Homo sapiens: one gene and its partners. The protein of the gene in region 2 purifies or fractionates together with the protein of the main gene of each other region. This does not show direct contact. Each region holds a gene or a part of one and is shown on either strand. Other genes may lie near its edges.

The links.
Region 1: the proteins of COLEC10 (region 2) and ARL8A purify together in Homo sapiens (affinity purification with mass spectrometry, with the first as the bait; one large-scale study listed by BioGRID). This does not show direct contact.
Region 3: the proteins of COLEC10 (region 2) and TIMP3 purify together in Homo sapiens (affinity purification with mass spectrometry; 2 studies listed by BioGRID and IntAct, with this or other methods). This does not show direct contact.
Region 4: the proteins of COLEC10 (region 2) and ACAD10 purify together in Homo sapiens (affinity purification with mass spectrometry; one large-scale study listed by BioGRID and IntAct). This does not show direct contact.
Region 5: the proteins of COLEC10 (region 2) and NUCB2 purify together in Homo sapiens (affinity purification with mass spectrometry; 3 studies listed by BioGRID and IntAct, with this or other methods). This does not show direct contact.
Region 6: the proteins of COLEC10 (region 2) and PLOD2 purify together in Homo sapiens (affinity purification with mass spectrometry; one large-scale study listed by BioGRID and IntAct). This does not show direct contact.
Region 7: the proteins of COLEC10 (region 2) and STC2 purify together in Homo sapiens (affinity purification with mass spectrometry; 2 studies listed by BioGRID and IntAct, with this or other methods). This does not show direct contact.

The regions. Positions count from the first base shown.
Region 1 is NC_000001.11:202,134,738-202,138,237, forward strand, and holds part of ARL8A (ADP-ribosylation factor-like protein 8A), read right to left. Parts: intron 3,302-3,500; coding exon 3,228-3,301; intron 1,064-3,227; coding exon 970-1,063; intron 790-969; coding exon 722-789; intron 484-721; coding exon 413-483; intron 1-412. UniProt on the Homo sapiens protein: Plays a role in lysosome motility. In neurons, mediates the anterograde axonal long-range transport of presynaptic lysosome-related vesicles required for presynaptic biogenesis and synaptic function. May play a role in chromosome segregation.
Region 2 is NC_000008.11:119,084,247-119,087,746, forward strand, and holds part of COLEC10 (collectin-10 isoform 1 precursor), read left to right. Parts: intron 1-3,500. UniProt on the Homo sapiens protein: Lectin that binds to various sugars: galactose > mannose = fucose > N-acetylglucosamine > N-acetylgalactosamine. Acts as a chemoattractant, probably involved in the regulation of cell migration.
Region 3 is NC_000022.11:32,850,205-32,853,704, reverse strand, and holds part of TIMP3 (metalloproteinase inhibitor 3 precursor), read right to left. Parts: intron 1-3,500.
Region 4 is NC_000012.12:111,741,553-111,745,052, forward strand, and holds part of ACAD10 (acyl-CoA dehydrogenase family member 10), read left to right. Parts: intron 1-3,090; coding exon 3,091-3,491; intron 3,492-3,500.
Region 5 is NC_000011.10:17,307,739-17,311,238, forward strand, and holds part of NUCB2 (nucleobindin-2 isoform 1 preproprotein), read left to right. Parts: intron 1-1,833; coding exon 1,834-1,937; intron 1,938-3,086; coding exon 3,087-3,272; intron 3,273-3,454; coding exon 3,455-3,500. UniProt on the Homo sapiens protein: Calcium-binding protein which may have a role in calcium homeostasis. Acts as a non-receptor guanine nucleotide exchange factor which binds to and activates guanine nucleotide-binding protein (G-protein) alpha subunit GNAI3.
Region 6 is NC_000003.12:146,154,685-146,158,184, forward strand, and holds part of PLOD2 (procollagen-lysine,2-oxoglutarate 5-dioxygenase 2 isoform 1 precursor), read right to left. Parts: intron 1-3,500. UniProt on the Homo sapiens protein: Forms hydroxylysine residues in -Xaa-Lys-Gly- sequences in collagens. These hydroxylysines serve as sites of attachment for carbohydrate units and are essential for the stability of the intermolecular collagen cross-links.
Region 7 is NC_000005.10:173,318,415-173,321,914, forward strand, and holds part of STC2 (stanniocalcin-2 precursor), read right to left. Parts: intron 1-3,500. UniProt on the Homo sapiens protein: Has an anti-hypocalcemic action on calcium and phosphate homeostasis.

The DNA of each region.
Region 1 (3,500 bases), on a different chromosome or scaffold from region 2:
GAACTCCAGCCTGGGTGACAGAGCGAGACACTTTCTCAAAAACAAACAAGAAGTCCAGAGCTGGCAAGCGCCACATGGCCCTGAATGAGTAGTAGCGGAATTCAGGTGCTGGGAAAGAGACAGAGCCACAGCATGTCAGAGCCAGCAGGGACCTGAGAATCACCGGGTCCAGCCCTGGAATCTTAGAAACGAGGAGGTGAAGCCCAGAGCGGGGATCGATTTGCCCGAGATCACACAACCGCTTGGCGACAAGCTGGGATAGTGCCCAGAATCTGGGCCACCTGGCTGCCTTTTCTACCCAAGAGCCACAGGGCTTTGGACTTCAGGGAAAGTTGTGGAGCGAGAACCTGAGAGCCACTAAAACACTCAGAAATGCCTCTCCCCTCTCCTCCCTTTCCCCCATCCTACGCACCAATGTTGTCCTTTTCTTTGCAAGAGATGGAGTAGCAGCAGATCTCTCGGTCCTGGATGGCAGACAGATTCCTGGGGGAAACCAGAGTAGAGTCCGCTGAGGCTACGAACGTCCAGGGGGCCTGGGGCTAGGGGACAGCGGGGCCTTTTTCTTACCTAAGAGGCTACAAAGGGGAGGGTGAGGTGCCTGAAAAGGTCGGCTCTGCTGCCACCGTGTGGCTAATACTAAGAACAGCAGCAAGCCTAGGCTGTTGGTCTGGTGGTTGGGGAATTGGGAGAGCAGAAAGTAATATAGAGTCACCCAACTCACATTTTCTCAATCAGCTCCTTCTCATCCAATGCTCCCGGAAGGTCTCGCTTGTTACCCAGGACTAAGACCTACGGAGAAGGGAGGGTGAGGATGAGGTCTAGGGCAGCCGTGCCCAGGTTGTCTGGGTGGTGAGCTGGCCTCCTGGGTCCCGTTTCCTCTCTGCGCCCCTACCATGCCTGGCTTTTACCTGCTCCCAGTGACTTCCCAGCCGAGCTCCCTCCCCATCCCGCTCCCTCAGGTCTGCTGACCGGGATGCCCTGCAGCTGAGGTTTGTCCAGTAGGTTGTGGAGCTCGTTCTTAGAGGCCTCAATCTTCTCCTGGTCAGCAGCATCCACCATGTACCTGGGGAAAGAGGCAGGGTGGGGACAAGCATGTTGACACCACAGGCTGAGGTGGTGCAAGGAAGAGAAGGAGCTGCTGCTTGGAGGTGAAAGCATCTGTTGCAGCTTGGTCACCTCGGGATCCATGGGCTACCTGGCCTGGCTCAAGGCAGGTGCTCCGCGGATGTTTTCTGAGTCTATGGGAGTGAACAGCTGCAGGGACTCCTTAGGCCTGCCATTAGCCTCCAAGTGCTACTCTGGGGAAGCCGTTACTCATGTGGAAAAGCGTGGGCCCTTTGAGATTAGCTGTAAGTCCCTCTCAAAGTGACCCACTTATGTTTTCATGGAAAGACTAAATAAGGTTAGAGTGAAAAAAGCAAAGGAAACCTTAGAAGATTTCTTTTAGCAAGATACTTTTTGTTATCAGGTTAAAAAGCAACCTATTGTGTATTCTAAACAATCTATTGTTTGGGCATATATATATAGAATAAATTTTATTATTATTATTAATATCATTTTTGAGATGGAGTCTCGCTCTGTTGCCAGGCTGGAGTGCAGTGGTGCAATCTCAGCTCACTGCCACCTCCGCCTGCCAGGTTCAAGCGATTCTCCTGCCTCAACCTCCCAAGTAACTGGGACTACAGGCACATGCCGCCACGCCCGGCTAATTTTTTGTATTTTTAGCAGAGATGGGGTTTCACCATGTTAGCCAGGATGGGCTCAATCTCCTGACCTTGTGATCCACTCGTCTCGGGCTCCCAAAGTGCTGGGATTACAGGCATGAGCCACCGCATCCAGCCTATTATTTTCTGAGGCAGGGTCTCACTGTCACCCAGGGTGGAGTGCAGTGGTGCAATTACAGCTCACTGCAGCCTCGGCTTCCTGGACTCAAGAGATCCTCCCACCTCAGTCGTCTGAGTAGCTGGGACTACAGGTGCGTGCTACCAGGCTCAGCTAATTTTTGTACTTTTGTAGAGATAGGGTTGCACCATGTTACCCAGGTTGGTTTTGAACTTCTGACCTCAAGTAATCCGTCTGCCTTGGCCTCCCCCTGTGCCCTGCCATTTTTCTTTTCTTTTCTTTTCCTTTTTTTTGAGACAGAGTCTCGCTTTGTCGCCCAGGCTGGAGTGCAGTGATGCGATCTCGGCTCACTGCAAGCTCCGCCTCCTGGGTTCACGCCATTCTCCTGCCTCAGCCTCGCGAGTAGCTGGGACTACAGGCGCCTGCCACCACGCCCAGCTAATTTTTTTTGTATTTTTGGTAGAGACAGGGTTTCACTGTGTTAGCCAGGATGGTCTCGATCTTCTGACCTCGTGATCCGCCCACCTCGGCCTCCCAAAGTGCTGGGATTACAGGCGTGAGCCACCGCGCCCAGCCCATGCCCTGCCATTTTTCAATGTTTAAAATTTATTTTATTTTATTTTTTTAAAGACAGGATCTTGCTATGTTGCCTAGGCTGGCCCTAAACTCCTGGGCTCAAGCAATCCTCTTGCCTCAGCCTCCCAAGTAGCTGGGATTACAGGTGTGTGGCACCATGCTCAGCCAAAAAAAACATTATTTTTAAAAAGCAAGAGAGGGCTGCGCGCGGTGGCTCATGCATGTAATTTGGGAGGCCGAGGCAGGCAGATCACCTGAGGTCGGGAGTTCAAGACCAGCCTAACCAACATGGAGAAACCCTGTCTCTACTAAAAATACAAAAGTGGCCAGGCGTGGTAGCGCATGCCTGTAATCCCAGCTACTTGGGATGCTGAAGTGGGAGAATCGCTTGAACCTGGGAGGCAGGAGGTTGTGGTGAGCCGAGATCGCACCATTGCACGCCAGCCTGGGCAACAAGAGCGAAACTCCGTCTCAAAAAAAAAAAAAAGAATCATTTAAACCACACAAAATTCAAGACAGTGGTGACTTTGGGTTGAGGGGAGGGAGACAAGTCAATGAAGAGGATGCACAGGTGCATCTGGCTGGTTAATAGTCTATAGTCTGTTTCTTAGATTGGGTAGTGAGTGCCCAGGGCATTTATCCAATAAGAAACAAGTGGCATGCAAAATAAACGCAGGCCCTGGACCGACACTGTGTCATGAACCAAGGATTATGTCTAATAAAACCCTGCGCCTCTGAGGTCCTCGAAGGTAGCAGGGCTAGGGGGGCCGGGTAAGGCTGGAGTCTGGCGATGCCTCCCGTGTACTTACACGATGGCGCTCACTCCTCGGCAGTAGCGCTCCCACATGCTGCGGAAACGCGGCTGTCCCCCAATGTCCCAGAGCTGAGCAAGAAGAGGGTGAGATAGCCTCAGTAGTGGGCAGGCCACCAAAACGTGTCTTGGGTCTCAAATGCCCCCTCCTACCCTGCCCTACTCTCCTCTGCCTCCCCGGCTTCCTCTCCAGTTCTCCCCCGTCTCCACCCGCTCTCCGTCTACCTTAGAAGTCTTCTACTGTCTTTTCCCAGCTCCTCAGCAGGGGGAC
Region 2 (3,500 bases):
TCATAGCTAAGTTCACAGAGCTGATAAGCAATGTGATTAAGATTTGACGCCTGAATATGCAAGGTCAGGACCCTCCCCTGGGCTTCATCAATACGTCATCCCACCTTTCCAGGAATTACTCCCTTCTGTGAATCACCAGTGGAAATTTTTCTTCTTCCAACCACTCTGTCCAAGTCAGTTTCTTGATCTATCAGTTCTTTCAGAAGAGAAAATGGAATTATTTGTCATGATTTGTTTTCAAAGGACTTAGGCTTACTCCTCTGAATGTCTACTTCTCTTCTAACTACTCATTTCTTCCTTGTATGAGATTGTATATAGCACAGCAGTGTGGGCTTGAGATGAACAAGATCACAGAACTCTATCAAGGTGACTTTTTCAAATGCCTACAGCCCTTTAAAAAGCAAGATTGATATAATGATAATATGTTTATATAGGAGTTTGTTCTTACCCTTTAAAAACACTTACTGAAGTACTTAAGGGAGATATGTTCATGTCTATAATTTACTTTTTTAAAAAATATAGCAAAAATAAATACATGAAGCAATGACAATGTGCTAATTGGTAAATCTCAGTAATGGGTTTTTATCTTTAATTATGTGAAAAGTTTTACAATAAAGGGTAAAAAAAACACAGCCAAGTAAAAGAGTAAGTAATGATTATATAATAGAGATTGAGGTAGTGAATACTAAGAAATAATCACTTATCTACTTCTATTCTCATTAAAGCAGACACTGATGAGTTTACCAAATGAGACAGGCATGGTGTTGAACACTTTTCATCCACTGTCTCCATTAATCCACAGCAATCCTATGAGGTTGGGATTATTCTCTCCATTTTGGATGAGAAAACTGAGATTGGAAGAAATGAAATGGCTTGTTTCAGAGTACTCTTAACCAAGGCAGTGCACTCTCTTTGCCTTAGGGAAAGCTGTGCAGAAGTGGCTGACTTGAAAGAATTCAGGATAGCCAGGAGTAGGCAGGTTGGGTAGGTGAAGGCACCAAGGGAATGATAAAATGGATGAATGGGGAGAAGGCTAACAATAGCAGGTCCCAATGAGGCCTGAAGATTTCAGTGAAGTGATGAGGTTGAGGTTGGGGAAGTAAAAGTACTAGGGAGTGGTTTGTTTTATGACTCTACTGGTACATGTCATGTATGTAAGAGGTATGGGGCATAATTGATGACTACTGAAATTTCCAAGAATGAGGATGCAATTGGCATAGATGGGAAGAAGATGTAAGTAGGAGTGGGAAGGATATATTTTAGGCAGGAGTTCTTGCCTTGTTAAGAAATCACAACATACCAGCTATCCCATTCAATTCTTTATTTTTTCTTTCTTCTTCTTTCTTCTTCTTCTTTTTTTTTTTTTTTTTTTTTTTGTTGTTGTTGTTGTTGTTGCTGTTGAGATGCAGTCTCGCTCTATCACCAGGCTGGGGTGCAGTGGCACAAACTGCAACCTCTGCCTCCCGAGTTCAAGCGATCTCCTGCCTCAGCCTCCTGAGTAACTGGGATTACAGGCACCTGCCACCAGGCCCAGCTAATTTTTGTATTCTTAGTAGAGACAGGGTTTCACCATGTTGGTCAGGCTGGTCTTGAACTCCTGACTTCAAACAATCCACCCGCCTCGGCCTCCCAAAGTGCTGAGATTACAGGCGTCATCCACCATGCCCAGTCTATCCCATTCAATTCTAAGGCTGATCAGGAGAAAGGTTACTAACAACAACTCCCCAGTCTATAAGATTGTTTTGACAAAGGGAAAAGGATTTTAATTAATTAATTTTAGCATCTCCAAAATAATTCACTACTTTTTAATAAGTATTTCCTTTGAGTAAAGGGTACTGGCCTGGATTCCAACTAGAATTCAATTTTAAAAGACATTTTGCTAATTGGGCAGGGGGAAAAGTCCTATCTAAGAAAATGCGGTCAAATGTGTGCTGTGTTGGAATTCTGCTGGTGGCTTGGGGAGTGGGTGTGAGCAAAGCAAATAATTTTTGTAAAATTGAAATTAGCTTATTTCAGTTTATAGCTTTTCACTTAATTTTCAAATACAAGTGGCTATTTCTAAATGAAGTAAAATAGTGTAAATTGTCCTACTCATCCAGTAAATACAAAAACAAACAACTGTGAGCCAGGTCGGCGGGGAGGTGGGGGGGGTCCCTATCCAAAGCTTGCTTTTACATCTCCCTTCAGTTCTCATTAAAGTAAGTACCAAAGATCAAACAAACCCAGGACCCATGCTGAAGGCTAGGGCTCAAGTTGTTTACTTCATCTGTGCCAGAAGCCTGCTTGGCCACCAGGCTGGGATGCAGTCACATGGGTTGAAGGATAATAAATAATCCTATTTCACCCTCCCAGATCTCCATCAAGAGCCACCAGGGAGCAGTAGATCACTAAGTCACTCACCCGGCTGCCTCTGGTTAGACATTTGCTTGAAAACAAATGGGAAAGCTTATAGAAGGGGAAGAAGGAAGGAGAAAGAATAATGGCACCAATAATTCACATCTGTGTGGCATTTTGATTCTCAAAGGGCTTCACATATATGCTTGTTTTTATCTTGCCTTTTCATGAGCAGGACGCGCATCATTAGTCTCATTGTACAGAAGAGGAATCCAAGACCCAGAAATGCTAAGGCAGGAATTTGTTCTAAATCATCCAGCTTGTTCAGAACATGGGCTAGGAGGACAAATGCCCCTGTTTGAATCCTGGCTTTACCACTTATGAGTTATGTGACCTTGGATGTTACTTAACCTCTCTGTGACCCCATTTCCTTTTCTGTAAAATGGAGCAAAGGATAGTATCCATCTCAAAGCTTGCTGTGGGGATCAAATGATAGATTGTATGTCAAGTGCTAAGAACATTTTTGGCACAAACTATTTGATAAATACTGCTATTATATTTGTAGAATGTCTTATGGTTCACACAAAGTGTATTCAGTTCAACTACATTTATTAAACACCAGAGCCAGGCACTGTGCTAAATTCTGGAGATGCTAGAAAAAATCACTTATGATCCCACCATGCTTTGGGTCACAGGGAAATGTAAGAGATAAGTGGAAATACACCGACACATTTGGTATAAAGTGTTATTTTTAAGCAACAAAGGTAATTAGAGGGAGAATTTAGCCCAGTCTGGGAGTATTAGAAAGGACTCCCTGAAGGAAAATACTTTTCTAGCTTTACCTTTGCTAAACACCCTCTGGAAAAAAAGTGTAATTTTTGTCTATTCTATGAATGCATGGAAAAAAGCTCAGATAAGTTAAAGGACTTCCCAAAGTCCCTCAGTGAATGGCAAAGTGGTGTCTCAGTTATGCTACCCCATCCCAAGGATACATTTCCTGTGAATAAAGTCATTAAGTAATAAGCTGTTTTTTTTCTTTTCTCCCACTATCTTTCTTGCCTAAAAGGAAACAAAAACTATATTTCTTTCTGCAACCCCCCTTTTTGCCCTGAAAAATTTGGCACGGTGCCAAATTCTGTAAAATCCACCATCTGCTAAGAGTCACA
Region 3 (3,500 bases), on a different chromosome or scaffold from region 2:
CCCTTTCTCCTAAGTCCCTTCCTCAGCTCTTAACAAGAGTAGTTAAAGCTGGTTTAGAACTTCAGACATAAGTGGGTTGTTCTTTTTCAGCTGGGTTCTGCATGCCTCTGGGCCCCTCTTCTTCTTCTTGGTAGCATCTACACAAAGTTCCAAGATGTTAGCTTCCCTTGGAGTGAAGGGACAAATAAAGTAAAAAAGAAGTTTCTGAGTCTGGGGACATTTGCATATTTCTTATGAAATGTCTGGCCTTCACTCTACATTGACAGCATGAGTTGCCTCAATGATTCCAACTATGTCTTGCATGCCTACCAAAGATCAACACTGTTCTGGATGCTGGTGTACATCACGGACTCATTTAAACCCACAAATTCTTATTTACAGACCGACCGAGCTATCACGGCCATGATCTTTCTCTATACAGCAATTTGTCTAGCAGGACAGGCAGAGAATGTAGAAATGGAGCCAGTCTCTGCAGAGGGCTGGATGAGAGTCCTAAGGCAGGAAGAACCACGGGCATTGCAAGAAGAATGGTTCCCTGTGGGCTGGGGGTCAAAGATGCTTCCAGCTAGAGCTTCAAAGGCGAGACCCTGCTATTGCTCATTTGGTTAGACAAACCACTAAAGGAAGGAAGTCCCTGGAGGTCTGCTCTGCCTACAGTCAGGACATGCAAAGCACATGACCAGCGGGTCTCCCCATGGGACCCTCCCAGGACCAGCTGGGACATAATGTCCCCCACGTTCTGTCCCCTGCAGCCAGCTGGAGAGCATGTCTCCGCTACATAAACAATAACTCCTGGCACAGTGGATCGGTTTCTCATGGTCCTGATGGGAGATAAGGTCCCCACAGCTTAGAGCAGCCAGTTCTGGAAACTTTCACCTTCACCCCACAGCCCAGCTAATTTCCAAGTTTGGGATTGCAATAAGCTCTCTCAACATTCTAACACCCTGCTCCCTCACACACACACACATATCGCAGGTCTCTGTGTACTGAAGTGTTCCTGAGAGATGGGTCAGAGGCTCCAGAGTTAGCAGACGGGAGAAGGTCTGCCTGCCTTCCATCAGTGAGAGAAGAGAGAGGTCAGACAGGGCGGCTCGGAGTCTCAGGTTCTCCAAGTTCCTTTAGTCCTGCTCTAAGGAAGCCCTTGCTCACCCCTTCTGACTCTCTAGGGTAGACTGTCTAATCTGCTAGAACAAAGTCTCCCAGGGACCAGTGCCAAAACTCATGCAGGCTTGCCTCTCTGGCCTCTCTCTCTTCCCTCCTACAAAGATTTTTCTGATACACCCTTTGCAGGATATTACAAGTCCAGCCCTACACTGCTGGATGATAAACCAACAAACCCAAACTGACCTCTTTTTGTTCCCTGGGAACTAAAAACATATGGAGTGGGCATTTATATACCCCAAAGTGGGTAGGAATGATGAATCAGCCTGCTGCTCCATACTGTATTATCTCCTTATAGGCAAAGACCCTGTAGTTTTGCTCAGGTTTGCCACTTTGTGGCCATATAATCTTAACAGTTATATGACCTCCCAGGTCTCAGTTGCCTCACCTGTCAAACAGAGGACAAGGTGTTATCTATTTTACAGTGTTAGTATAAGTACTGATCTATGCAAAGACCTAGCAGAATGCCTGGCACTAAGCAATTGCTCAGTAAATGTTAACTGATGCCAAGTCTTATCATAATTATAAGCAGTGTTATCTTTGTATCCCCAGTTCATAGTACAGTACTAAGCACAGAGAGAGGGTGGGAAGGAAGCACGAGAGGATGGATGGACGGACTATTACTTCTAGCCTGTATCTTGTCTGACTTGCAGGCTGGTACCTAGAGACAAGCAGATTCCAGTGGTGTCTCTGGATAGAAGGGCACTGACCAGTTCTATGGATCATGATACCCTCTATGGAGGGTCAGAGTGAATGAAAGGCATGAGATGGTGACTGATGATTAAGATGGCAGGGAGATTTGGGAGTCATATAAAGAACACAGGATTGGGAAGAAATTCCGATGCCTCAGCTTGGGGATCAGATCTGCCCTTAGTTAAATGCTTGACTCTGAGTAAGTCATTTCCCCTTTGCGCCTCTGTCAGAAGTAAGACGAGGGATCCTACATCTAATTCCCAGCACCATGATTCATGAGCTCAGGCGAAGGATGGTGAACCGAAAGCCTAAGCCCACCAGTCTGGGAGTGGGAGTGTGTCTTCTAAGCCCACCAGCCTGGGAGTGGGAGTGTCTGATGCTGATAGGCTAGCAAGTGTTGTTTGGTCTCTAAACAACCACCCGTGGCTGGTCTGACACCAGCAAGGGGGAATGGGACATTATGTCCACAGGAAGGGCCTCTGGTCACCCTGGTCTCCAGGCCCTGATGGTAGGAAGGAAACCAGGCAGGCTTAGGAACTGCTGCCTCCCAGCTATTTCCCTCTCAGCTCTCTGCTGACCACCGAGTGTCTCGTAATGAGGATTGTTCCAGACCAGGCAGGTTCGTGTGTTTTCTGAACCTCTGCTTTGGTCTAATATGCTTTGGCATTCCCGCGCTGTCTGCCAGAGGTTGCAAAGTGGGCTTTTTGCGTTGTTGTTGCTCTTGCTGGTTCCCCACCCCTGCCCATTTTTCTCTCCCCAGGGCTGTCTGAAGACATAAGCTGGTCTCATGACCAAGCTTAGGCAGCCAAGGGCAACTGGCCAGGGCTGACTCTGGACATTACATAACCAGAAGGCTGTGGATGTTTGCAAAATTGAATCCAAAGCAACAGGTTCCACAAAATTAGTACATCCAGCCTCAGGACACAGGAATAAGAAAGCCTGGAGGTTGGCCTTGGGGATGGTTGGGTACCACCGTGGGCTGCGTCACTCCTCCACTCCCTTCTACCTGGACATTGCGGCTTGTCTCCTCTGGGGAGTTTCCAGGCCTGTGGGGTCTCACCCTCATGCCCGTATTAGACAGATAAGCATTCACCAAGTCACTTTTGCATGCCAGGTCCTACCCTAATTGCTAGGGATGCAAATATGAGCAATAAGTTAAAGGGCTGGACAGTTCCTGTGGACCTCAGCACACCCCACATTGAACTTCTGATGAGTCACACACATACCTGCCTCTTCTCTCCCAACCTGACTCTAGTTCCTAAAGATGGAAACTGTATCTCCCTCACGGCCTCCCTGGCTCCTAGCTGGGAGCTCTGCATGTAGAGAGGTGCTTACAAAGATGGGGTGATGAACCAGTTGCTGAGTTATTCAAGGTGAAGCCCCAGTCTTCTGTGCTAAGGCAATCACCAGTACACCCTTCCATTGTATACCACCCGCTCCTCCTTACAAGTAACATGGCCCGCATCCCAGGGTGCTTAGAATGCCTGAGCTAGAGAGGATGTTAGGAGCACCAAGCCCAACCCCACACTGTTAACAGGTGGCAAAACTGCGGCCCAGGAAAAGGGACAAGCCCAAGGTAAGCAGGCTATTTAGGAGTAGAGGTGAGACTAGGAGGCAGGTTCTCTAGATTTCAAATCTGGTGTTCT
Region 4 (3,500 bases), on a different chromosome or scaffold from region 2:
GACAGAAAAATGTCTGTTTGTTCAGGCCTTTATTCCTCTTATCTTACTGTGCACTCCTTTCCCTCCCTCTGGGAAGCCAGCCAGACACACTGAGGAAATGGCTTAGTTTTCTCATGTAAAAACAACAAAATCCATTTTTTGAAAGAATAATATAAAAACGTATGATGAATGGGGAAAAAACCAACTATACAAACATAAATATTACTTCTGTACATTTGTCTTCTACAATTAGCTTTAAAATCATTTTTGTTTGAACAGCTGAGATATTTGGTACTGGCCAGGAAAACTGGAGCTTAGAGAAGGGGTATCTGTTTCCAAGACATTCTCTCTATGGTGTCATTTACAAAAGACTTCAAATCAGCATTAGATTGGGAAGGGGATGAGAGAGACCAGAGCCCAGTGAGCAGAAGATTAACAGTATGTACCTGCCCAGCCCATGTGTCCTTCTCCTTCCTTAATAAGTGGGTGCAGAAATTAGATTTCTGGTAGATGGCCACTGAAATTCTATAAAGTGCTTATGACTGCAAGTTAAGTGGACACCAGTGATGTGGTCTCTTCTGCTGGAACTACATTTTGGAAAATATACCAGAAGCAATAGATCTAAATCAATCCAAGCTTATACAAGTGACTTTTTTCAGGGACAAAGTAGCAGTCTCAGAGTGGGAGCCAACCAAATAGAAGAAAATTAAGAATACACCTCTTACTCTGTTAGAAGAAGAAAATCCTTATGAATAATAAGGAACATAAGGGAGTATCTTTCCCTTCAATGTGCTGTGTGCAGTCCGAGGAATAAGGAATAAGCCCCCACTGTGTGTCTGCAAGGAAGAGGCTATCTGGTTTCTGACTGACTTCCCTGGGTTAGGTTCATACCTAGCACCCAGAAGGTCCTCAGTAGAGACCTATTGAGGTCCAGTAGGCTAACTCTCTGCAGGGTAGCAAAGAATTTGCTCTGAGTTTGTTCCTAACTCTGTAAGGAATAGTTTAAACTATCTTTAACACCAAAGCTGCATGAAAATGGCTGTCTCAGCTGGGCATGGTGGCTCATGCCTGTAATCCCAGCAGTTTGGTAGACTGAGACAGGAGGATTGTTTGAGGCCAGAAGTTCGAGACCAGTTTGGGCAACGTAGTAAGGCCCCATCTCTTATTTAAAAATAAATAAAATATTTATTTTTTTGAGACGGAATTTTGCTCTTGTCACCCAGGCTGGAGTGCAATGGCATGATCTCGGCCCACGGCAACCTCCACCTCCTGGGTTCAAGCGATTCTCCTGCCTCAGCCTCCCCGGTAGCTAAGATTACAGGCGTGCATCACCACACCTGGCTAAATTTTGTACTTTTAGTAGAGACAGGGTTTCACCATGTTGCCCAGGCTGGTCTCGAACTGACCTCCAGTAATCCACCCACCTCAGCCTCCCAAAGTGCTGGGGTTACAGGCGTGAGCCAAAGCACCCAGCCTAAAATGAAATCATTTAAAAAAAGAAAATGGCTGTCTCTTTAGAACTATCAATTTATCCATTTATTGGGTACAGTCTCTTGGGGACATGGAAGTGCTAGAAGTAATCCAGGAGAGCTGGCTGTGAAAAAGTTCACTGTGAGGAGACATTGTACACATAGCAATCTGGATGTGTCTCAGATGCAGGGCTCAGAGTGATGGAGGCCATACTGAAAAGGCCACATGCTGAGTGACATATGTATTTATGGGACATCCTGGAAGAGACAGACTACAGAAACAGAGATCAGTGGGTGCTGGGGATCAGGGGGGCAGGGGTTGAGTACAAAAGTACACTGGGGAAATTTCCAGATGATGGAAATATTCTGTTTTTTTTTTTTTTTTTGAAATGGAGTCTCGCTCTGTTGCCCAGGCAACCTCCGCCTCTCGGGTTCAAGTGATTCTCCTACCTCAGGCTCCCAAGTAGCTGGGACTACAGGCATGTGCCACCATGCCTGGCTAATTTTTGTATTTTTAGTAGAGACAGGTTTCACCATGTTGACCAGGCTGGTCTCAAACTCCTGACCTCCGGTGATCCACCCGCCTCAGCCTCCAAAGTGCTGAGATTACAGGTGTGAGCCATTGCGCCTGGCCGAAGTATTCTGTATCTTGATGGCAATGGTAGTTACCCAACTATGGATTTGTTAAGACTTGCAGAGTTCTACATTAAGGAGGTGTATGTACACCACTCCTCAATTTTTTTATTTTTATTTATTTATTTTTTTGAGATGGGTGCCTCACTCTCTCCCAGGCTGGAGTGCAATGGCACGATCTCGGCTCACTGCAACCTCTGCCTCCCAGGTTCAAGCGATTCTCATGCCTTAGCCTCCTGAGTAGCTGAGATTACAGGCACACACCACCATGCCTGGCTAATTTTTGTATTTTTAGTAGAGATGGGGGTTTCTCCATGTTGGCCAGCCTGGTCTTGAACTCCCGACCTCAAGTGATCCGCCCACCTCAGCCTCCCAAAGTGCTGAGATTACAGGTGTGAGCCACCGCACCTGGCCACCTTAATTTTTTTTAATGGGGAAAAATATGTTTGTAAAAAAAGTCTTGATGCACATTTTACAAGAAGAAAGAGACGCTGTGAGAGCCAAATAGTGAGCTGAGTGATGCTGGTGTTGATTCCCTCCAGAGACAGTGGTGTCTAGAAGTTGGCTCTTCCTTTAGTCAGTTGTGGCATTGCTGTTATCAATTTTGTAGCAAGGGTGGTCTAGGATGCAGGACTTCTTATAGCCCACTGGCAACGGCAGAGGTGATCTGGGGTGTTACTGATTAAATGTAGTCTTTTAGGAAAGCAGAGATCAAGAGCAGGGAGCAGGCAGACCTAAGTTGGACTCTGGCCCCCAGCCCCCTAACTTCCAGCTCGTCCAAGTCACCTCCTTCTCTAAGACTCAGTTTTCTTGCGTGCAAAGTGCAGGTGAAAGCAGTTGTATTGCTTTGGGGATTCAGTGAGCTATAGTGGCTCTTAGCACAGTGTTTGGTACTTAGCAAGTGCTCAGCAAATGGCAATAGCTGCTGAAGTGACAGTGTCATCACATGTTAACATCCCTATGATGGGTCGTGTGGGAGTAATCACTGTTTTTCTTTGATTCTGCTTAGGGCAAGCAAGCTCCACATATGCGGAACAAACTGGAAAGCTGACCGAATTTGTGTCTAACCTGGCGTGGGATTTCGCAGTCAAAGAAGGGTTCCGGGTTTTCAAAGAGATGCCCTTCACAAATCCGTTAACAAGGTCCTACCACACGTGGGCCAGGCCCCAGTCCCAGTGGTGCCCCACAGGCAGCAGGAGTTATAGCTCCGTTCCAGAAGCTTCCCCAGCTCATACCTCAAGGGGAGGTCTGGTTATCTCTCCAGAGAGCCTCTCTCCACCTGTCAGAGAGCTGTATCACCGGCTGAAGCACTTCATGGAGCAACGTGTGTACCCTGCAGAGCCAGAGCTGCAGAGTCACCAGGCCTCAGCAGCCAGGTGGAGCCCCTCCCCACTGATCGAAGACCTCAAGGTAAAGCAG
Region 5 (3,500 bases), on a different chromosome or scaffold from region 2:
ACTGTGTATCCCTGTAAGATTATCTTTAGGATAATTTCCCCACAGTGGAATTGCCAAATCAAATTATATATATATATTTGTAATTTTGATAGATATTGCCACATTTGCCTCCATAGAGGTTGTATCAATACACATACCCGCCAGCAATAATTCCTCACAGGCTTACTAATGGCATGTGTCATCAAACTTTAGGAGTTTTCCATTCTGTTAGATAGTATAGCAGTGCAGTTTTAATATGTATTTCTCTTATTTTGAGTGAGGTTAAGGGTCTTTTTATATATTTCACTGTCTGGTCATTTTTTTTAGGGCTAAGTCTTAAAACAAGTATTTTCTTCATAAATAGAACTGCTAGTACAGTGCCATACTTAGAATTCAGTGAAAACTTGGTTGAACCAGATTTAGCAGTTCTTCACTTTCTGGCATAACAATATGTTCCAGGATCAACTTGTACCTACCTTGCCCCAGCTCTGGAATGAGCCATTTCTCTGAGGAGCACTGGTTTTTCTTAAGGGGCAACTATATTTTAGATCAAGAGCTGGCACTAGGTACGCTCCTTGCTACTGGAGTGTATTTTCTTGGCACCTTAATTGCATGGAGCTAGGAAATATGCATGTCTATACACATAGACACATATATAAACACATACATATTCATATACATGTGAAACATGCATATACATGTTAAATGTACATATTTTAGAAATGCTGAGTTCACACAGATAGTGCTAATTCCCATTCATCTCTAGCAATTTCTTTCTTGCCTTTCACCCTTCCATATTTGTATATTCCTTCTTCCTAAATGAGAGCTGATTTCCAACAACTTCAACAATGTACCCATTTTGCTCAATTCTAGAAGGGCTCGTATTGCGTTGTTTCTGGTGAGCTGTCTTGTATGTATATCCACTGTGTATCCATTACATGTGTCCACTATGTAATACAACTGAAACAATCCAGCATCACTTCACCCATTTCACTATAGTAAATTGTAACTTGTTTTTTAAACGTTAAAAAAATTGATATTTCCTTAAAAATACTTCATAATTAAAAGGAAATTTACCTAAATTAGATTTTTATTGTTTCATAAGTGATCCATTGGAGCAATATACAAGGAATTCTTTCATGTAAGCTTTAGAGCAATTATTTTTAGAAATTCTACTTAAACCTTTGATAAGGATACTATATTAGAGATTTATTAAAAGCAGGATATTTAGTAGTTTTAAGATAATTAAAAAGGGTTTGTTATTGTGCTGATAGTCAACTAGTTATTTAAGATATAACATTAAAATATGCATAAGGCCAGGCATGGTGGCTCATGCCTGTAACCCCAGCACTTTGAGAGGCTGAGTTGGGAGGATCACTTGAGGCCAGAAATTCAAGACCAGCCTGGGCAATATAGTGAGACCCTGTCTCTACCAAAAATTAAAAAAAAAGAAATTAGCCAGGCGTAGTGGTGCACACCTGTTGTCCTAGCTACTTAGGAAGCTGAGGTGGGAGGATTGCTTGAGCCCAGGAGGTCAAGGATGCAGTGATCCATGATTGCACCATTGCTCTCCAGCTTGGGTGACAGAGCAGGACCATGTCTCAAAAAAAAAATGAGAGAGAATTTTTAAAAATATACATGTTAAATTGCATTCCACTCTAGGTTCAAGGACACTACCTTTAACTAGAATAACATACGCAGTATTCATAAAGTAAATATAAGCCTTTATTCTAAAACTTTGGATTTCCTTATAAAATCCTATAGGAATAAATATGAAATCTTTTTCTTGTGTATAATTATTATGTTTCTAGCTTCTAGAAATTGATCATTTACAGTTTTCTTATTTTCTTTCAGATATAGGCATGGACCACCAAGCTCTTCTAAAACAATTTGATCACCTAAACCACCTGAATCCTGACAAGTTTGAATCCACAGATTTAGATATGCTAATCAAAGCGGTGAGAATAATTCCAAAAAGTTTTGTCTTTATTGTGCCTTTGAGGTTTTGTAATTTGACAAGTAAACCCAATGAAATGGAAATATAACTTTTATATATTCTGTAGAAGTTCTTTAAAGGAAGGTAGCTTAACCCTTATTAATACAGATATTAATATGTACATACAGGTCTAAAATCCCTTATCCACAATTCCTAAATCCAAAAGCTGTAAAAACTGAAACCTGGCCTGAATGAACCAATTATAGTAAAACCATTTACAGTTTTTATTTAACCTACTTAGTGTGAATATTTATAGATTTTGCTTAAGAAATACTAGTCTGTTTGATTACAGATGCTACAGGGATATTCCATAATATGGCATATGTACCATATTCCCTTTCTTTAAGGTAGAAAATTCTGAGCACATCTGGCCTCAGAGATTCCAGATAAGAGTTTGTGGACCTCTCACATTATGTGTGAATGGAACTAGTTCTAACCTGGCAGGTATTAGATTAGTTAAATGGTTAGAAGCCATTTTAGTTTTCTGTACTGTCTAGATTTGATAATAGTTCCTTTCTTCTTCTTTTTTTTTTTTAAATCAACTTACATATTACTTGCTTATGAGGAGTTTCCTAAAGTTGGGGCTAGCTTTGAACTTTTAGTTTCTTTGAATACTCTCTGGTAATAATGATGACTAAAATTGCTGGGCATGGTGGCTCATGCCTGTAATCCCAGCACTTTGGGAGGCCAAGGAGGGTGGATCACCCAAGGTCAGCAGTTCAAGACCAGCCTGGCCAACATGGTGAAACCCTGTCTGTACTTAAAATACAAATATTAGCCGGGAGTGGTGGTGAGCGCCTGTAATCCCAGCTACTCGAGAGGCCTCAGGAGGCTGAGGTGGGATAATCGCTTGAACCAAGAGGTGGAGGTGGCAGTGAGCCGAAATCGTGCCACTGCACTCCAGCCTGGGTGACGGGTGAAACTCCGTCTCAAAAAAAAAGAAGAAAAAACTTGACTAAAATGAAATGGTAGAATTTAAAAAGAGGAGTCCAGTATGTTTTTGCCCTCCCGTACCACTTCTGTTCAAGAGTATGCTATATTCAAGAATGGCTTTATTTACATTTTTCAAGTGAATGTTTTTATTTAACTTAAATGCATTATTGCATTTCAGGCAACAAGTGATCTGGAACACTATGACAAGACTCGTCATGAAGAATTTAAAAAATATGAAATGATGAAGGAACATGAAAGGAGAGAATATTTAAAAACATTGAATGAAGAAAAGAGAAAAGAAGAAGAGTCTAAATTTGAAGAAATGAAGAAAAAGCATGAAAATCACCCTAAAGTTAATCACCCAGTAAGGATTGTGACTTTATGAAACCATTTTTAGATAAAGATACTTCTTCGTATCAGCGGATTTTTATTGTGTTATTAGTACTTAAATCTTGATTCTTCTGCCAAGTTCCTCAAATTTATATTTTGAGTCTGTACAGATAGATTATATTTTGTTTTGAGCAATTTTTTAAAATTGGTTCACAGGGAAGCAAAGATCAACTAAAAGAGGTATGGGAAGAGACTGATGGAT
Region 6 (3,500 bases), on a different chromosome or scaffold from region 2:
TCCTTTAAGAAATAAATTCAAGAAAGGGGGAGTATATCCATATTTTAATAGAAATTTTAAAATGATTTTTATTTTCCTAAATCTGCCACAATGTGCTACTAAAACAATCAAGGCCTGAAAAAAATGCATGAGTCAATCAGTAACTAAGTATGTAAATGCATAAACCTGATTGTATTGTTTTGAAGAAAACCAAATTAAAATTAACAAAAGTACACTTCCCTCTTTTAATACACAAAAGAAAATCTGTAATGAAAATCTTCCTTTTGTGTATAAAAACGATGTATCTTTGCTCTTTGAATTGCTTGTAAAGTTACTCTGAAAACAAAAACTTATTTGAAGATACTACATTTTTAAATTATAAACTATTTTTTGAAGAGGTATCTTTGTGACACAGTCGGGCAGTAATCAATTCTGTACTGCTGCACCATCTTTAGTAGTGTAATTACCAAATATGGGTTGCAACATGTAGGCTTTAAGGTGGTAAGCAGAATAAAGATAACAACAACAGAGTTGCAGTCCCAGCTACTTGGGAGGCTGAGGTGATAAGCAGGATCATCTGAGCCCAGCAGTTTCAGGCTGTAGTGAGCTATGATAGCGTCACTGCATTCTAGCCTGACCTACAGAGTGAGACCCTGTCTATAAATAAATTAATTAATTAATTAATTAAATAACAGTCTCTATAATTCTACTATTCTAGATAACTATTTTTAACTGCAATCTCAATAGCTTTGAAAATTAGTTTCATTGGCCAGGCGCGGTGGCTCACACCTGCAATCCCAGCAGTTTGGGAAGCCGAGGGGGTTGGATCACGAGGTCAGGAGTTCAAGACCAGCCTAGCCAAGATGGTGAAACCCCATCTCTACTAAAAAAAAAATACAAAAATTAGCTGGGCATGGTGGCGGGCACCTGTAATCCCAGCTTCTCAGGAGGCTGAGGCAGACAATTGCTTGAACCCGGGAGGCAGAGGTTGCAGTGAGCCGAGATCACGCCACTGCACTCCAGCCTGGGCGACAGAACGAGACTCTGTCTCAAAAAAAAAAAAAAAAAAGAAAAAAGAAAGAAAATTAGTTCTGTTCAGTTCAGTTTGGGGAGGCAAGCATTCTACAACAAATGCAAATGAGTAAGATGTAAATTAAAAAGAATATGTCATTTTAAAAGCCACCAAATTCTCAGTTTAGCCTAATTTATAGCAATGATTAAAGAAAAATAAAAATACTCATTGATAAACGTGCTAATTATTTCCTCCCAGGAGCTCAGCCACAAATTCATAACCAGGTTTCTAGAACAAATTTCTAGAATATACTCAAGCTCTGAAGAAGAAATATGCATCTCCTTTCCAACTAGCCATCAGTGTTTTTAATTCATTTTTGATCATGAGAACACTACTTACACCAAAGAACATGTCTTGATAGCTTCAAGTGCTGTGTTTAAAAAGATGTAACAGAGAAACTCTATGTTTGAACGCAAAACACCACAGGAATCACCGGCAAATTCTAAAATGAAAAACAGGTCTCTGAAATGCCCAGAGCCAGCTGCTACTGTCCAGAAGCCAGCTCCTTCCCACAGAGCAGCAGATCGGCATGAGCCACAACTTAAGTGGGAATGTCATCTCCTAAGGCAAGGTTCGGCAAAGTTTTTCTGTACAGGACCAGCTAGTCAATATCTCAGACTTTGCAGGCCTCATAGTCTCTGTAACTACTACTCAGCTCTGCCTTGTAGCACCAAAGCAGCCAGACAATAAGTAAACAAATGAATGTGGCTGAGAGCCAATAAAACTTTAATTTCATATAATTTTCATGTTTCATAATATATTATTCTCCTTTTGATATTTTTCAACCATTTAAAAATGTAAACATCTCTGTTAGTTCACAGACCACACAAACACAGGTAGCTGTTTGGGGTCTGCTAGATTTGGCCTATGGGCCATAATTTACCACTCTGGCCTAGGGCCCAGTTTTCCTTCAGCCTGTGCCTACTCCTTTCTCCTCCTTTTACATAACCTGCAAATTATGCCTTTTCCCTTTTAGCAAAGCTTTCCTTTTGTTTCTCTAAGTCACTGATGGCCAGTTTCTGTTTCTTTCTCATAGGTCCCAAAAGTCCAAGAGAACAATTATGAGGTCAGGAAAGACAAGCACAGCCTGAAGAAGGGGCACAGGCCCCTCTTCTACTGCTTTCCACCTATGTGAGCTTGTGCAAGGTATGTAACCATCCCAAATCTCCATTTCACCACCAATAAAAAAAATTATGGCACCCAACTACCTGAAAGTAATAGTGAAGGTGCCACTTTGTATTGAGTAAAGCAGGTAAAGCGGGAAATACAACCCGTGGAGAAGGGTTGCCAAACATGGTTCAGAAACAAGGCAGCAGATATTTCACTTCTAAGCTGTTAAATCATGTAGCATATGGGTTCCCAAGCAGAGAAAGGAAGCTCAGTGAATTCAGATAAAGTTCTGGGGGAAGAAGAAACTAGCAACCTCATTGACTGCACGCTACTTTTCATAATTCTCAGAACAGGCCAGAAACTCAGTAAGCAAAACCTGAGAATGTCTGTGGCAAAACAACAGTGTAGATACTGAAGAGCATAAAAATGAATAAAACTCAGCCCTTCACTTTGAAGAGTTTACAATTTATTAAACATAAGGACCTATAGTACAAAGTAAATATGATTTGTATAAACCAGCTACATTAAGAAGTTAAAAATAAAAAGAACCAAACAAAAATAGCCAGGAGAAGAATTTCCTAGGAGCTAGACTTAAACAATAAACAGGATTTCAAAAAACTAAAAAGGAAGGAACAGAAATTTGAGAGTGCTATTCATGCACATATCTAGGATTACAGGACATGCGGATTCTCAATTCCAGTAGATATTATTAAATTGTTCTCCAAAGACACTGTGCTTCCATCAACGGTCAATTCCCATCCTGACATTTGGTACAATCAGAGTTTATTTTAAGATGCTTTGTCCCATGTGTTGGATAGAAAAGGGTAGCTCAATTTAATTTTCATTTCTTGTCTTCACATTCTCTATAGTAGTTTTATATGTCTGTTGTCATGTGAAATAAAAGGCACAGTCTGTTTATGGATGATATGTCATTCTGTGTGGCTGAAGCACAGAATACAGAAAGTACAGAGGACAAGACCCTCTCTCTTCCAGAGGTTTCTCCAGGCCCTTGCTCTTTTCCTCTCCACCCCATAAATTGCTGGTTTGCATCAGTAGATAGGGACAAACCTTTCCTTTTTTCCTTGAATGTACCACAGTAAATTAGAGAGTTTATAAATGAATGAATGTGGTACAAAAATACTGGTCTTGACAGAAACATTTGAAACCATTTCCTTTGTTTTTGCCCAAAACTTGGTTTCTGCCCAGTTTGGATCATAGAATAGTAAGGTGCCTCAGAAAACACACACAAATTTTATCCAGGTCTGGAGACATGACGGCAAAGACTTGGCAGGAATACATCCACCTTCTCCTTATCCCATCTAGAAGGCAGAAAGGGCAG
Region 7 (3,500 bases), on a different chromosome or scaffold from region 2:
AGCCTTTTCTCATAGTCTATGGAGTACTGGCCTCAACCAACACTTATTGGGTGGCCACTGTGTCCCAGGCTCACAGGTGCATAGGGTAAGAGCTTAGGACCCTAAAAGGAAGACCCTCTGGGGATGGTGAGAAATCCAGGTGGCTGCGTGAATAATGGCAGGAGAGCTCTGGGTGCCTTTAGGCTACACTAACTAGGTGAGTTTCAGCTAGAGTGGAGATGGCTCTGGGGTCCAGTGGAATCATAATTAGGCAAATGGTGCAGGGCCTTACATAGACTTCCAAACAGAGGATTCTTTTTGGTAGGGAAGAGGAAACCATGAAGGTTTAGGACCACGTGCCCTCTATGAGAAGCCCCCAAGAAACCATTTTCCCCATGTTTGTGTTTGCCCCGGGTTTAGGCTTCTGATGAAGAAGGGTGTTTTTGGAAGTTATTGGATGCATTTCCTCTGCATCTGGAGGAGTATGGAAGAGCTGAAGTGGGAGGGAGGAAGACCATGTCCCTGGGACGTCATTGCCCGTGCATGCAGTGATTCCCTTTCTCAGTAGCAGAGGCTGGGGAGTAGGTGTGGCCATCTGAGCATCTTTATTCTTTCAGTCTGGGCTTCCTTAGATTTGGAGTTGAAGGCTGGCGGTCAGGGGCCCCTGTGTCTGGACTGAGAGACAGCTCACTGTGCAATGAACTCGCCTAGTTCTGGAGGGCAGAGCCAGTTCCTCAGGCCATTCCGGTTGTCTTGGGTTGTTCTGTAGGAAAACCACTGGAATAATTTACTCCAGGGGGTGGACAAGGTGTGCAGAAGGCAGGAGCATCTGCTTTTTATATTTATGGGCCCATCTGGTAAAGAGTGTCCCCAGCAATGGGCTCTCATGGGCCACTCACTGAGCTTTTATTTTAACCTCTCACTGGCCTTTAAAACCCCCCAAGGGGGGTATAGAATGTTTCACATGGCTAACCAGCATTCCTAGGCAGTCCTCGCTGGCAAAGTTTCTGATCTATCTGACCACAAGCATTGCAGCTTTGGGCCATCACCTTGAGCAGGGAAGTCACCATGGAATGTGAGGTCATTCATAACAAGGAGCAATCTGATTTGTCCTCCCTAAGTCTGGGCCACCAGAGAGGCTGCGTTACAGCCCATGGAGCCTTTTCTTTGCAAGTTGGCAGTTGTTGCTATGTGGAAAGAGCAGACTGTGTTTTGAGATGTGTGAAGTAGTTTACTGCCTTTTTATTAATTATTCCTCAAGTTGGAATTGAGTGAACTGTCCTCACCTCATGGATGCAAAAACTGAGAAAAGCAGGGAGAAGGTGGCTCTTGGAAGCTTCTGGGCTTCAGGGCCCAGGGCTTGGCTGAGAGCAGAGCAGAGAGGAGGAATGCTCTGGCTGAGAGAGATCCAGCTGCTGTTTAGGGCCTGCTTGATGACTTTGGAGTCAGCAAGTCTGTGCATGGCCGCTGGGCAAAGGGCTTTAAACCCCCTAAGGCAGGCCCCTGACAGCGCAAGACAACCTAACCCTGTCCCTTGGACTGCCCTGAGGTGGGCAGGTGGGCATGCAGGAGGCAATATGAGGGAAATGCTCCACGCGTGCTTGTTTCCTTCTATTTTTTGAAAACTAGAAACTGCCTCCGGAGCTCAAGTTCACCGAGTGTGTCTGCTAAAGCAGCAACAGGATTTTAGCACCTGACTGTGCCTGCCGCGGCACCAGGGCTAGGTGAGCACACTGCAGGGGTGAGGGTCTGTCTTTCTGAGATACTAACTGGATGCTGTCTTCAAGCTCCTTTCCCCAGAGTAAGGGGAGGGCTGTCTTGGGAATATGCAGACTGTCTTTCGCCTTCCCGGCCAGGGCGTTCTGTCTGCCAGATGAGCCCCCAGAAGCCCAGGGCGGATCTGGATCCCAGAAGGCTGGATGAGCCCATGCTGTCCTCTGCCCTTGGCCCTCTCTCTCTCCAGGAGGAAGCTGTGAACTGCGGGGAGGGGTGTGTGTGCCGAACCAAGTTAATCCAAGCCGTGTTCCGAGCTGGCCTGGTGCCTTCTGAGGCTGCAAGCTCAGCCCGTGTCTAATGACAAAGTCCAGCTCGTTCAACTGGGTGTCAGCAAGCCTAAAGGATTTTAAAAAATACTTGGAGGGGGATGTGCCTGGAGCCTGCCAGCACCCAGTGACATGGCGAGTGGGGGTAAAACCAGGCAGGCGGCAGCTAGGGGGAGACAGATGCTGTGCAGAAAGTGGGGCGGGCAGGAAGGGGTGAGGGGAGCGGAGAGGAAGAGCTTGAAAAGAGCAGCATTAACTGGGGGTGAGTGTTCTGGTGTGGATGGGGGTTGGGTTGAAGAATGGGGGTGGTGCAGATTCTGGGGTGACTGTGATTTCCTCATCTCTAAAGTGAAAAGCAAATTCAGTTCTCTCTTTTTTTTTTTTTTTGACCAATGCCACACATTTGGAAATGGGCTTCTTGATATTTGGGGACTGATAGGATACTTTAATCAGTTAAGATGGTTGGGAAAAAAAAACCTAAAAAACAGGCAGTTCAGCTAGAAGTACAAGTCGATGCACCGCCACATCATGGCTTCAGAAGGAAAGGTAATGGGGGTTTTTGGGAAGCTGGAGTTAGGGGAGACCCCTGCCTAGAGATGCTGACTTAGGGGGAAGCAAGAGGAACAGCATGTGACCAGGCTTCTTATATGGGCTGCCTGCATTTCCAGAGCAGGCTGGGGTGGGGGGTCATAGGCTCATTCTGAATGGTGTGAGGAGACCATGGCCCCGAGGGCCACATTCCCAAGAAGGAGACACTAGAACGCCAGAGAGCTTTACCTTCTTCTTAAATTAAGGGGAGGGGGTGGGACTTCCAACCTTCAGTTTTCCCAAAGAATACTTTTCTCCAAGAAAGATAGAATTCCTGTGCTCCAGGCATGCATTATAGCCTTATAAACTAGGAATGGGCCCCATTCCCCACCGATTCCTGAGGCCAGCAAACTCTCTCTAATGGGGGACAGGGCTAGAGGCGAGTGAAGCTCACGGTGTTTCCTAGCCATGGGGCATTTTTCTCTTCCAGAGGCACCTGAAGGAAGGGAATTTTAGAGTGTTCTCCTTGTGTAATGGGGATATATTTGATAAAAGGACAAGAAGCCCACCACATGTGGGGAGCTGTGAGCCCTTTCAGGTCTAGGAGGGAGATAATAGGCTGGGAGCAGGTTTGAAGTCTATTCCTGATGACTGGCTTCAGTCATGTATACCAGCAATTCCGAAGCTTAAAAGCAGGAATCAAACCTCAGTCCGAGTTCTCTAATCTCTTAGCTTCACTTTCCTCCTCTTGGGCATAGTAATTTCTATCTTGTAGCATCTTTGGGAAAGATAAATGAGATAACCCATGTAAAGGCCCTGGCCAAGGGCCTAGACCATTAGAAAAAAAATTAAAAAAACATAAAAAAAGACAGCTATCATTGTTGTTGATGATGCTGTGGCTGCTATTGTTCCCTTAAAAATATTTGAAGAATAAAAAATATTTTGTAAGGC